Linked DNA regions of Homo sapiens. The protein of the gene in region 1 interacts with the protein of each later gene in a biochemical or structural test. Each region holds a gene or a part of one and is shown in the gene's direction. Other genes may lie near its edges. The genes, in order: DNAJC19 and PAM16.

The links.
Region 2: the proteins of DNAJC19 (region 1) and PAM16 form a complex in vitro, tested with the Homo sapiens proteins (one study listed by BioGRID).

The regions. Positions count from the first base shown.
Region 1 is NC_000003.12:180,983,142-180,986,962, reverse strand, and holds the end of DNAJC19 (mitochondrial import inner membrane translocase subunit TIM14), read left to right. Parts: coding exon 1-20; intron 21-966; coding exon 967-1,037; intron 1,038-2,252; coding exon 2,253-2,323; 3' UTR 2,324-3,254; downstream 3,255-3,821. UniProt on the Homo sapiens protein: Mitochondrial co-chaperone which forms a complex with prohibitins to regulate cardiolipin remodeling.
Region 2 is NC_000016.10:4,348,178-4,355,798, reverse strand, and holds the start of PAM16 (mitochondrial import inner membrane translocase subunit TIM16), read left to right. Parts: upstream 1-4,477; 5' UTR 4,478-4,564; coding exon 4,565-4,567; intron 4,568-7,621. Other genes in the region: CORO7 (coronin-7), read left to right, coding at 427-513, 636-641; CORO7-PAM16 protein, read left to right, coding at 427-513. UniProt on the Homo sapiens protein: Regulates ATP-dependent protein translocation into the mitochondrial matrix. Inhibits DNAJC19 stimulation of HSPA9/Mortalin ATPase activity.

The DNA.
Region 1 (3,821 bases):
GCATTAATACTAGGTGTAAGGTAAAATAATCTCTAATATTTTTAGCATTTTTCTACCACTGTAGAGCCATGAGGAAATATAAGAAAGACCTTCTCTCCTTTAATAGGAGAGGGTCATGGGGGATTTTGTCCTAGGAAGATTGATATTACCAATTCTAATCAATGAAACTGTACTGTTCCTTCATGTTATTTTTAAGATGTAAACAATCCTTCAAATGAGAAGGCACACTAGCACTTAAGCACTTTTTCTTTTTTCCTAGAGTGTTTACTAAAACACAGGCACTTTTTCATTTATTTAAAGATAGACTCCTCAGCAGATTATCACAGTGTTCAGTGTTGTTCTCTGTAACTGACATTTTTTTTGTGGTGAAATTCTGCCTTCAACCGGGCGCGGTGACTCACGTCTGTAATCCCAGCACTTTGGGAGGCCAAGGCCAGTGGATTACTTGAGGTCAGGAGTTCAAGACCAGCCTGGCAAACATGGTGAAACCCCGTCTCTACTTAAAATACAAAAATTAGCCAGGCGTAATGGCACACACCTGTAATCCCAGCTACTCGGAAGGCTGAGGCAGGAGAATCGCTTGAACCCGGGAGGCCGAGGTTGCAGTGAACCAAGATCAAGCCACTGCACTCCAGCCTAGGGGACAGAGTGAGACTATCTCAAAAAAAAAAAAAAACAAAACTCTTCCTTCTTCATTTTCAAATCCTTAAACATGCGTTTCTTATCAATAAAAGGACTGTTGTAATGGGTACTGCAAGTTCAACACATTTTTGAGAGTGCCTTACTTTTCTAAGTAGTTTCCCAATTTAGGATACGCATTGGGTGTGTTGAGGTTTCTAAACAGCTTTTCATACTGTTGTGTTAATTTACTACAGTTTCACAGTGTCTTTAATTGGCCTTTATGTACAGTTTTTTGATGTGATGCAGAAGTAGGATGAAGTAAATACCATTTCTTTTTTTAATTAGCCCTACTGCCAATAAAGGGAAAATAAGAGATGCTCATCGACGAATTATGCTTTTAAATCATCCTGACAAAGGTAAGTAGTCATTAAATTCTCGTTGATGTTGTTGGTGTGACCAATAGTTATTAATGGGATAATTTTATCTCAAATTCCTGGCTATTAGAAAGGTAACACTTAAATCTGTAAGTCCTGTCTCCTAGGCTGGAGCCATATATTTTTGGTGTCTTAAAAGAAATTAAGTGAAAACTTTACTTACAGAATGAGCAGATGTAAGTGCTACTATTACTATGTTTTGTGGGTTTTTCTGGCCTACATTTATTATAATTAAAACGTTAAATTTCGTAAAACTAAAATGTAATTTTTCCTTATCCATTTTAGATACCTTGAAACGGAGATTACCTAGATAGAAACTTATGGGATTTATTTATTCGTTTGTGATAGACTTCTATGCAGCCTTGGCTGTGTTGAAGGAAAGCAAGAATTTCTTTGAATACCAAAAAATAGACCACAGAATTCATGTTCTAGTGTTTGTATCCTTTTACTTATACAGGAGAGGGCTTTCATTAATAAAAAGGGTTTTGACATTTTAAACAGGGTTATAATTGTTTGATATCTACTTCACAGTATCTTTTATGAAATTTAGCTTGTTTTATATGGAGGGCTTCTGACTCAGTAGGTCGGCAGTGGAGCCCCATAAATATGCATTTATACTAAATTTCCTGTTATTTCTTGCTGGTCTTAGGACCATACTTTGAGAATCACTCCTCCAGCAGATTCGTAGGAAAGCAGCTGTAGATGACATTGTGAAGGGACAGTAGATAACAGGAAAAGAAAAACTGGACAGAAAAAGGATGTAAAGCAAACTGGGATCTTTCCAGTAAACAGCTCAGAAGCCTCTGAGAATATCATGGTATTAAAATAACATGGTATAATTGATGTTCATTTATGACCTGTAATCATGAATAGGCTAACACCAGTTCAAAGGCATATACATATATATCTAATATATATGATAGAAATCCTATTTCTATCAGTTTAAGCTTTCTAAAAAGGTGTTATTTTTGTAGAAATATCTCCCACGTAAATTACTTCATTTCTCATTGGTCACATATATTACCATATATTTGGTCATCCAGTTGCAGTGTCAGGGTTATTTTTTAAAAATTAAAACACTGTTTCTGCTAAATCTCCCTCAGATAAGCATTGGAGTCCTTGAAACAAGAGTAGCTTTTTACCAAGCAGAAATTGAGAATCCATATTGTAACTGTTCTTTTTTCTTTCTTCCTATAGGAGGATCTCCTTATATAGCAGCCAAAATCAATGAAGCTAAAGATTTACTAGAAGGTCAAGCTAAAAAATGAAGTAAATGTATGATGAATTTTAAGTTCGTATTAGTTTATGTATATGAGTACTAAGTTTTTATAATAAAATGCCTCAGAGCTACAATTTTAAAAAATGATTTAGCACAAGCTAAATCTCAAAGCCTTGGTATAATTTTCTTGTTTAAATTTGGGGATTTTAAATCAGATTATAGTTTAGAATATTTGCGTATTAATTATGGGCAAGCACACACCTTCTGAATAGAAATATTGTTCATTACTCATTTAGCAGATAATTTGGGACCTATGTCTACTTTTCAAGGCAAAGTGAAGATGACAGTCCTTGCTCTCAGGGAGCCCCCACTTTAATGGGAGACTGATAAACTGGTAATTAGACTGTGATAAATAGTATGATGGAAATTAGCTTAAGCTGTTTAAGTAGGGACTCTTCTTATTCGGTGGAAAGGCTGTTCCAGGTACAGGCAACTGGCCTGGCAACTTGGATACTTGGAACCTTGTATTTAAAAGTGAATTTAACCACAACTGAGACCTAAGAAATTGACCTAGGGGTGTGTGTGTGTGTGTATTCTATGTACATATAAACCATTTTTATTTCATGCATTAAAAATAGTATGATAAAGATTTCAGAGTACAGGTCTGGTACAATCACAGTTCATTGCAGCCTCAACCTCCTGGGTTTAAGCAGTCCTCCCGCCTCAGCCTCCCAAAGTACTGGGATTACAGGCATGAGTATTTACATTGTATTCAGCTAGCCCCTTAAAGGTAATGACCATTTATAAATTATTCCTTCAGTTGGCTATTTCTTGACATAATCAAACTTCTGCAATTGTTATGATTAAGCTTAAACCCTGTTAGCAAAACTGAAAACTGAAATGTTCTCAATATCAACATATTTAATTTGGACTCTTTAGAATTTATACACTAATAAATTTAAATGATGTTTAAAGGCAAATTACTTACTGTTTGTCTAACATAAAATATATAAGGATCTTAAGAGGACCTGTATAAAACATCTGGTATAAACTAGTATGTATTTCTCAACAGGAGTATTTCTTATGTGTAGCTCTAAGATGATAAATTATACTACCTACCGTCTAAACTTCCTTAAGTCATCATAAGTTTCTTAATTATTGGAGGATACAAGGACTTTTGAGGTTAAAAAAATAGTGGAGGTAATATTTATCTGCCTTATAAAGTAAAGGTATATCTGCTCTTTGTGTTTTCTATCCAATACCCTCGTTTAAAATCTGATGGAGTCTGTTATGATTTAGTGTATGATGAAACACTAGCTTCTAAGGCTTTTATGCAGGATAAATTATTTCCAGGGACAAGGAGACATGAAAGTACAGCTGGTTCTTGTTTGTGGTAATTCTGTTCTTTAAGGTGGCTATGAACACTGAATTAGCAAATAAGGAACAAGTTCCTAAGAGAAATACAGATTCTGTGACCCTTTGGTCACAATATTGTCTGCCAGTCAGTATATAACCTTGATCGACCTGTTTCTGCTTGAAAACATTCT
Region 2 (7,621 bases), on another chromosome or scaffold:
CTCTCTCTAAAACAAACAAACAAACAAAAAGGCCGGGCGCTGTGGCTCACGCCTGTAATCCCAGCACCGTGGGAGGCCGAGGCGGGCGGATCACGAGGTCAGGAGATCGAGACCATCCTGGCTAACACGGTGAAACCCCCGTCTCTACTAAAAATACAAAAAATTAGCCGGGCATGGTGGTGGGCGCCTGTAATCCCAGCTCCTTGGGAGGCTGAGGCAGGACAGTGGTGTAAACCCGGGAGGCAGAGCTTGCAGTGAGCCGAGATCGCGCCACTGCACTCCATCCAGCCTGGGCGACAGAGCAAGACTCCGTCTAAAAAAAAAAAAAAAGTTCTTTTCACAGCCTTGTCAGGGTTGTTCTTGGAGTGGGAGAGGGAACAGGGAGTCCTATTCCCTTACCTACCCTTCTTCTGCCCTCTCTCCCAGCTGCTGAATGCCATGGTGGCAAAACTGGGGAACCGGGAGGACCCACTCCCCCAGGACTCCTTTGAAGGCGTGGACGAGGACGAGTGGGTGAGTAGTGAGTGGCCTCACTTCCCGGCAGGCAGCGCGGTCCCTCGCACATGCCACGGTGCATGCCTCCTCCCTTCCCAGGCCCTCCTGACTCCCTCCCACCTCTTGGTGTTTCGCCCCAGGACTAGCCTGCGCCCCCGTCACCTCCACCTCACCTGTGCTGCCACTTCCTAGTGCACACCTCACGGCTCATCCTCAAGCTGGAAGATACCTCTCTGGCCCCGGCACATGTCACCCCTGCACTCCTGCCTTCCCGTGGGCACTTCCACATCCTCTGGGCCTCTGGCAGTTCCCAGGGACTGTTTTCACCTCTGCTGTCTCTGGGGTCAGCTGCTGCTCATCAGCTGCCCGCTAGCATGTGGCCAGGGGTGCAGGGTGGCGGGGGGTCAGCAGCATGTCCCTGGGCAGGCCCTGGGCACCCTGTCTCCCCTGGTCTCACTGCTGACCTGGGCTGGTCCCAGCCTGGATTGGCCTCATCCAGGATCTTTGGTCACCCCACGCTGCCCCATCTTGCCTGCTGTTCCAGTTCTGGTCAAGGGCCTTGGGGGCTGGCCCCCCACCAGGCCTTCTAGAGCAGCACCAGTCTCAGGGCCCTGGGACCAGCTGCCCTACTTCCCAGGTTTGTAGCCAGGAGAAGGGGGCATCACAGAGCTGATGGTCCAATAAGGGGGGTGTGAGCCCCGCAGGGACTGGCCCGCACCTGCCTTGGATGTTTTCAGCAATTAAACTTTTTTAAGCTGGCCACCTCTTGTGCTGCTGTGGTCTCTGGGCTGGCTGGAAAGGGAAGGGGACAGGAATGTGGGTGACAGGGGTCTGGCCCTGGGCTCCCCTTTATCTCAGCCTCACTCTGGTCCCAAGGCCCAATCACCTGCGCACTGCTGGGAGTCATTCGCTCACCATGCAGGTTCCTGGCAGTGCTCTGGATGGCGGGATGCTATAAAGGACAGGAGAGATAAGGTCTTGCAAGGACCTTCAGCTTCTTACAGCCTCCTTATGCAGGGGAACCAGACTGCACACGAGCATATAGAGTGTGAAGACAGCAGTAAAGAAGAGAAACTGGCTGGGCACGGTGGCTCATGCCTATAATACTAGCACTTTGGGAGGCCAAGGTGGGAGGATCGTTTGAGGCCAGGAGTTCAAGACCAGCCTGGCCCACATGGTAAAACGCTGTCTCTACTAAAAATACAAAAAGTAGCCAGGTGTAGTGGTAAGCGCCTGTAATCCAAGCTACTTGGGAAGCTGAGGGAGGAGAATTGCTTGAACCCAGGAGTCAGAGGTTGCAGTGAGTCAAGATCCTGCCATTGCACTCCAGCCTGGGTGACAGAGCAAGACTCAGTCTCAAAAAACAAACAAACAAACAAAAAAACCTGTGGGACAGGAAGCAACTGGGATGCAGCGAGGCAGGGAATTCAGGGCCTGAGAAGGTGACTTTCAGCTAAGAGCCAAGACTTGAAGGCTGATGAGGAGCCAGCCAGGGAGAGAGCCACTTCCGAGGCAAGGAAGTACAATGTGGGCACAGAGAGAGGAATGTGGAGGCCAGGAGGAAGAGGAAGAAGGGCAGCGGTGTAGAGTAGGATTCCAGGTGGCCCAACTTTCATCCCACCATTTGCCGAATGCTGTGCGCCAGATGCTCTTCCAGGCGCTTGACATCTAACAGCAGAGAAGAGAGAGGAAATGCTTGCCCAAAAGGAACTCCCATTCTAGTGGAAGGAAACAGATTCTCAACAATAAACATAAAAATAAAGGGAGGCCAAGGTGGGAGGATTGCTTGAACCCAGGAGTTTGAGGTCAGACTGGGCAACATAGGGGAACCCTTGTCTCTACAAAGAATACAAACATTAGCTGGGCGCGGTGGCTCACGCCTGTAATCCGAGCACTTCGGGAGGCCAAGGCAGGCGGATCACGAGGTCAGGAGCACGAGACCATCCTGGCTAACACGGTGAAACCCCGTCTTTACTAAAAATACAAAAAATTAGCCGGACATGGTGGCCCATGCCTGTAGTCCCAGCTACTCAGGAGGCTGAGGCAAGAGAATCTCTTGAACCCAGGAAGCAGAGGTTGCAGTGAGCCGAGGTCATGCCACTGCACTCCAGGCTGGGCAACAGGGAGACGCTCTCAAAAAGACAAAAAACAAACATTAACCACATGTGTTGGCACATGCCTGTGGTCCCAGCTACTCAGAAAGCTGAGGTGAAAGTATCACTCAAGGCTGGAAGGTCAAGACTGCAGTGAGCCATGATCATGCTACTGTACTGCAGCCTGGGCAACAGAGTGAGACCCTATCTTGAAAAAAAAAAATTTTTTTTTGGCTGGGCACGGTGGCTTACACCTGTAATCCCAGCACTTTCGGAGGCTGAAGTGGGAGGATCACTTGAACCCAGGAGGTGGAGATCGCAGTGAGCCAAGATTGGGCCACTGCTCTCCAGCCTGGGTGACAGAGCAAGACTTCATCTCAAAAAAAAAAAAAAAAGGAAAAATAATTTAAAAATAAAAAACCGGTTGGGCACAGTGTCACATGCCTATAATCCCAGCACTTTGGGAGGCTGTGGCGGGTGGATCATTTGAGACCAGTAGTTCAAGACCAGCCTGGCCAACATGGTGAAACCCTGTCTCTACTAAAAATTCAAAAATTAATGGGGCATGGTGGTCCATGCCTGTAATCCCAGCTACTCAGGAGGCTAAAGCATGAGCATCGCCTGAACCTGGGAGGTGGAGGTTGCAGTGAGGCAGGATTGTGCCACTGGACTCCAGCCTGGGCGACAGGGTGAGACCCTGTCTCAAAATGATAAATAAAATAAATAAGTAAATTATGTGGTATGGTAGAGGGTGATCAGAGTCTTGGAAGAAAAATAGAGACAAGAAGGGAGGATAAGCCAGTCACAAAAGGCTGCACATTGTATGATTCAATTTCTTCTTTTTTTTCATTTTTCATTTTTACCTTTTTTTTTTTTTTTTTTTTTTTTGAGGCAGGGCCTGACTCTGTCACCCAGGCTGGAGTGCAGTGATCACAGCTCACTGCAGCCTGTACCTCCCGGGCTCAAGAGATCCACCACTCAGCCTCCCAAGTAGCTGGGATTACAGGCACCTGCCACCACACCCGGCTAATTTTTGTATTTGTAGAGATGGGGTTTCACCATGTTGCCCAGCCTGGCCTTGAGTTCCTGACCTCAAGCGATCCACCTCGGCCTCCCAAAGTTTTGAGATTGCAGGCATGAGCCACCACGCCTGGCTTGTATGATTCCATTTCTATGAAATGTCCGGAACCTGTGAATCCATAGAGAGAAAAATGAGTGGTTGACAGGGGCTGGGGGAGGGGGCTGGGGAGTGACTAATGGGTGATGAAAACGTTCTGGAACTAATAGTGGTGACAGTGGCACAGCTCTGTGAATAAAAGGCATTGGACTGTGCACTTGAAAATCATGAAATCTACAGTGTATGGATTATATCTCAATAAAGCTGTTACTTTTTTCATTCATGGAGGGCAAGTCACGGCGTTTTAAGGGGTCCAGGTGGGCCTCATTGAGGTGACATTTGAGCAAAGATTTGAAGAAGGGAACGAGCTTCTCAGGCAGGAGGAATGTGGATGAAACCTATTTTGAAGTTTTCTATTTTCTAAAGTATTTTTGAGAATTTAGCATCCTACTCCATATTATGTTCATTGATTTCATATAATGTTGCATTCCCAAATATTTTGGCAAAATCAAGGGCAGAAATCGCCCCACGTCTGACCGATGTGCTTAGCTGCTCCAGCGCACTGGGGTAAGCACGCGGGCAATTGAGACTCCCGGTAACGCCCCTTGCCCTCCCAAGCCCGCCCCCAGTTATCCAGAGCCCGACGCAGGCTCAGTCAAACCCCGCCTCCGACCCCGCCCCGAGCCGCTAAGACGCTCCCGGTGGCCCGCCCTTAGACTGAGGCAATGCGCATGCCCAGCGCCGTATCGCGCACGCGCTCTCTGCGGCTTTCCTTGACCTCTGACCCGCCGACCACGCTTGATCCCCGGCCGCGGGGCCAGGAAGTCGGAGTTTGAGCCCCGGAGGCAGAGCGGCTGCCATGGTGAGCCCCGAGTCGGGCGCTACCGGGGAGGGGAAGCCGAGTCGGGCCGGGGGCCGGGGGCCGGGCGGCGAGCTCCGGGCTGGGCGGCGGGCGCCGTGCGCCCCCTGCGTGCCCGGCGGGAAGCATGGTCTGGGGGCGTTGCACCCGGGGGAATCGAGGCCGGCAGCGGCGGCACCGGCGGCCTCAGGGCCAGGGAAAACCGTCTGCCTGGAAGAGGCCGGGCAAACGTGGTCGCGCTGTGCCTAGCCCGCGTGTGAGCGAGCAGCCGTGGGCAGCGGTGGAGCATGAGTCTGGCTGGTGAGCGCCTCCCCTGCCCTGGAACCTTACAGCGCTGCAGAGTCGATGTTGCTGCCCTGTTGTTATCCCCAGTGGAAAGCTGGCCTTTCCAGGGAAGTGGCTGACCTGGGACTTGAACTAGGCCCCGAGACACCGAGCACGGAGCGTTTGTGTGATATCGTTGGCACGTAGAGCCAGTCAACAGACCTGCGCCACACTGTCAGGTCACCTAGGGTAGCTTTAAAAGTGCAGGTTTGGCTGGGCGCGGTGGCTCACGCCTGTAATCCCAGCACTCTGGGAGGCCGAGGCGGCGGATCACGAGGTCAGGAGTTCGAGACCAGCCTGGCCAACATGATGAAACCCGGTCTCCACCAAAAAATTTAAAAAATTAGCCGGGTGGGGTGGTGCGCGCCTGTAGTCCAAGCTACCCGGGAGGCTGAGGCAGGACAGACGCTTGAACCCGCGAGACAGAGGTTGCAATGAGCCGAGATCCGCCAGTGCACTCTAGCCTGGGCGACAGGGTGAGACTGCGTCTCAAAAAAAAAATTATATATATGTATTATATATACCGTATACATTTATGTATACTACATATTATTATGTTATATATATTTTTATATATCATGTATTTTATATATATATATACACACACACACACATAATATATACATATGTTAGCCAGGCATGGTGGCACACACCTGTAATCCCAGCTGCTTGGGAAGTTGAGGCGCCAGTATCGCTTGAACCCAGGAGGCAGAGGCTGCAGTGAACCAAGATTGTGCCACTGCACTCCAGTCTGGGCGACAGGGCAAAACTCTCTCAAAAAGAAAAAGAGGGGGAAAAAAAAAGTTCAGGTTCTTGAGCTCTATCCCTGGAGGTTCTGCACACGTAAGTTCCCCAAGTGACTCTGTTGCAGCTGGTTCGGGGAGCCACTTCTTAACTAACATAGTAATAAGGATAATGTAACAGCTAACGGCGTACAAGTGCCAGCCCCTGAGCTAAGGCTTTATGTAGAGTCTCTCATTTAGTGTTTATGAAGTCCTGCTGTCATTGTCCTTATTTTACAGATAAGGAACCTGAGCCCCAGACAGTTTTGACTCCACCATAGTCATGCATCCCATGGTGTCAGAGACCTCTTTTGAGCCCAGCTCTGTCCCAAAACTCATGGGGTTTTTTTGGTTTGTTTTTTGAGATAGGATGTCTGTCTGTCGCCCCGGCTAGGATGCAGTGGAGCGATCCTAGCTCACTGCAGCCTTGAACTCCTAGGCTCAAGCCATCCTCCTACCTTAGACCCCCAAGTAGTTGGGCCTACAGGTGAGTGCCAGCACACCTGGCTAATTTTTAAATTTTATGTAGAGGTGGGGTCTTGCTGTGTTGCCCCAGATGGGTCTCCTAGGCTGGAGTACAGTGGTACGATCACAGCTCACTGCAGCCTCAACCTCCTGGGGCTTAGGTGATCCTCCCATTTCATCCTCCCCAGTAGCCTCAGCCTCCCGGGTAGTTGGGACAACAGGCATGCTCCACTATGCCCAGCTAATTTTTTGTATTTTTTGTAGAGATGCAGTTTCGCCATGTTGCCAGGCTGGTCTCAAACTTCTGGGCCCAAGCAGTCCTCCTGCCTCGGACTCCCAAAGTGCTGGGATTATAGGCGTGAGCCACCGCACCCAGCATGACAGTATATTAACAGGAAAAGAAAGTGCTGGCCGGGCACGGTGGCTCACACCTGTAATCCCAGCACTTTGGGGGTCTCAGGCGGGTGGATCACGAGGTCAGGAGATCAAGACCATCCTGGCTAACATGGTGAAACCCCGTCTCTACTAAAAATACAAAAAATTAGCCGGGTGTGGTGGCAGGCACCTGTAGTCCCAGCTACTCAGGAGGCTGAGGCAGGAGAATGGCTTGAACCCGGGAGGCCGAGCTTGCAGTGAGCCGAAGGTCGCGCTACTGCACTCCGGCCTGGGTGACAGAGCAAGACTCCGTCTCAAAAAAAAAAAAAAAAAAAGAAAGTGCTAGGCCGGGTACGGTGGCTCACGCCTGTAATCCCAGCACTTTGGGTGGATTACCTGAGCTCAGGGGTTCGAGACCAGCCTGGGCAACACGGTGAAACCCTCTCTGTACTAAAAATACAAAAAATTAGCCGGGCATGGCAGCGTGTGCCTGTAGTCCCAGCTACTCAGGAGGCTGAGGCAGAAGAATTTCTTGAACCCGGGAGGCAGAGGCTGCAGTGAGCCGAGATCGCACTACTGCACTCCGGCCTGGGCGACAGAGCAAGACTCCATCTCCAAAAAAAAAAGAAAGTGCTGTCGGAAGGTATACATGGGAGAGCCTGGAAAGGGTTTCACCCGGGGGATGGGGAATGATATTAGGTCCTGAGGGATGTTGGGTTTTGACAGGATCAGGGTAGAAGGGAGGATGTTCAAGGTGGAGGAACTCAGAACAGCAAAGGCCCTGAGGAGTACAGAAGTATGAGAGCGGCTCTAGGAGCAGAGGGTGTGGCTGCAGCGTGGAGAGAGGTGAGGTTGAGAAGTTGAGGCCAGACCAGGCGCTGTGAATGCCAAGCTGGGGAGTGGACCAAATCTGCAGGCGGCGGTGGAGAATTGTGTGTTTACTGGGAGATGGCCAGAACCCTCCCGCAGAAGGGTTAGGAGGCGCTTGGAAACCCTGCCTGGGGACATGGAGTTCATGAGACAGCAGATTGGGCAAAGCTGCAACAGCCATATTCATTCAGATGCACCAGGGGCACTTACTGCGCCAGCCACTGGCCAGGTCCCTGATGTT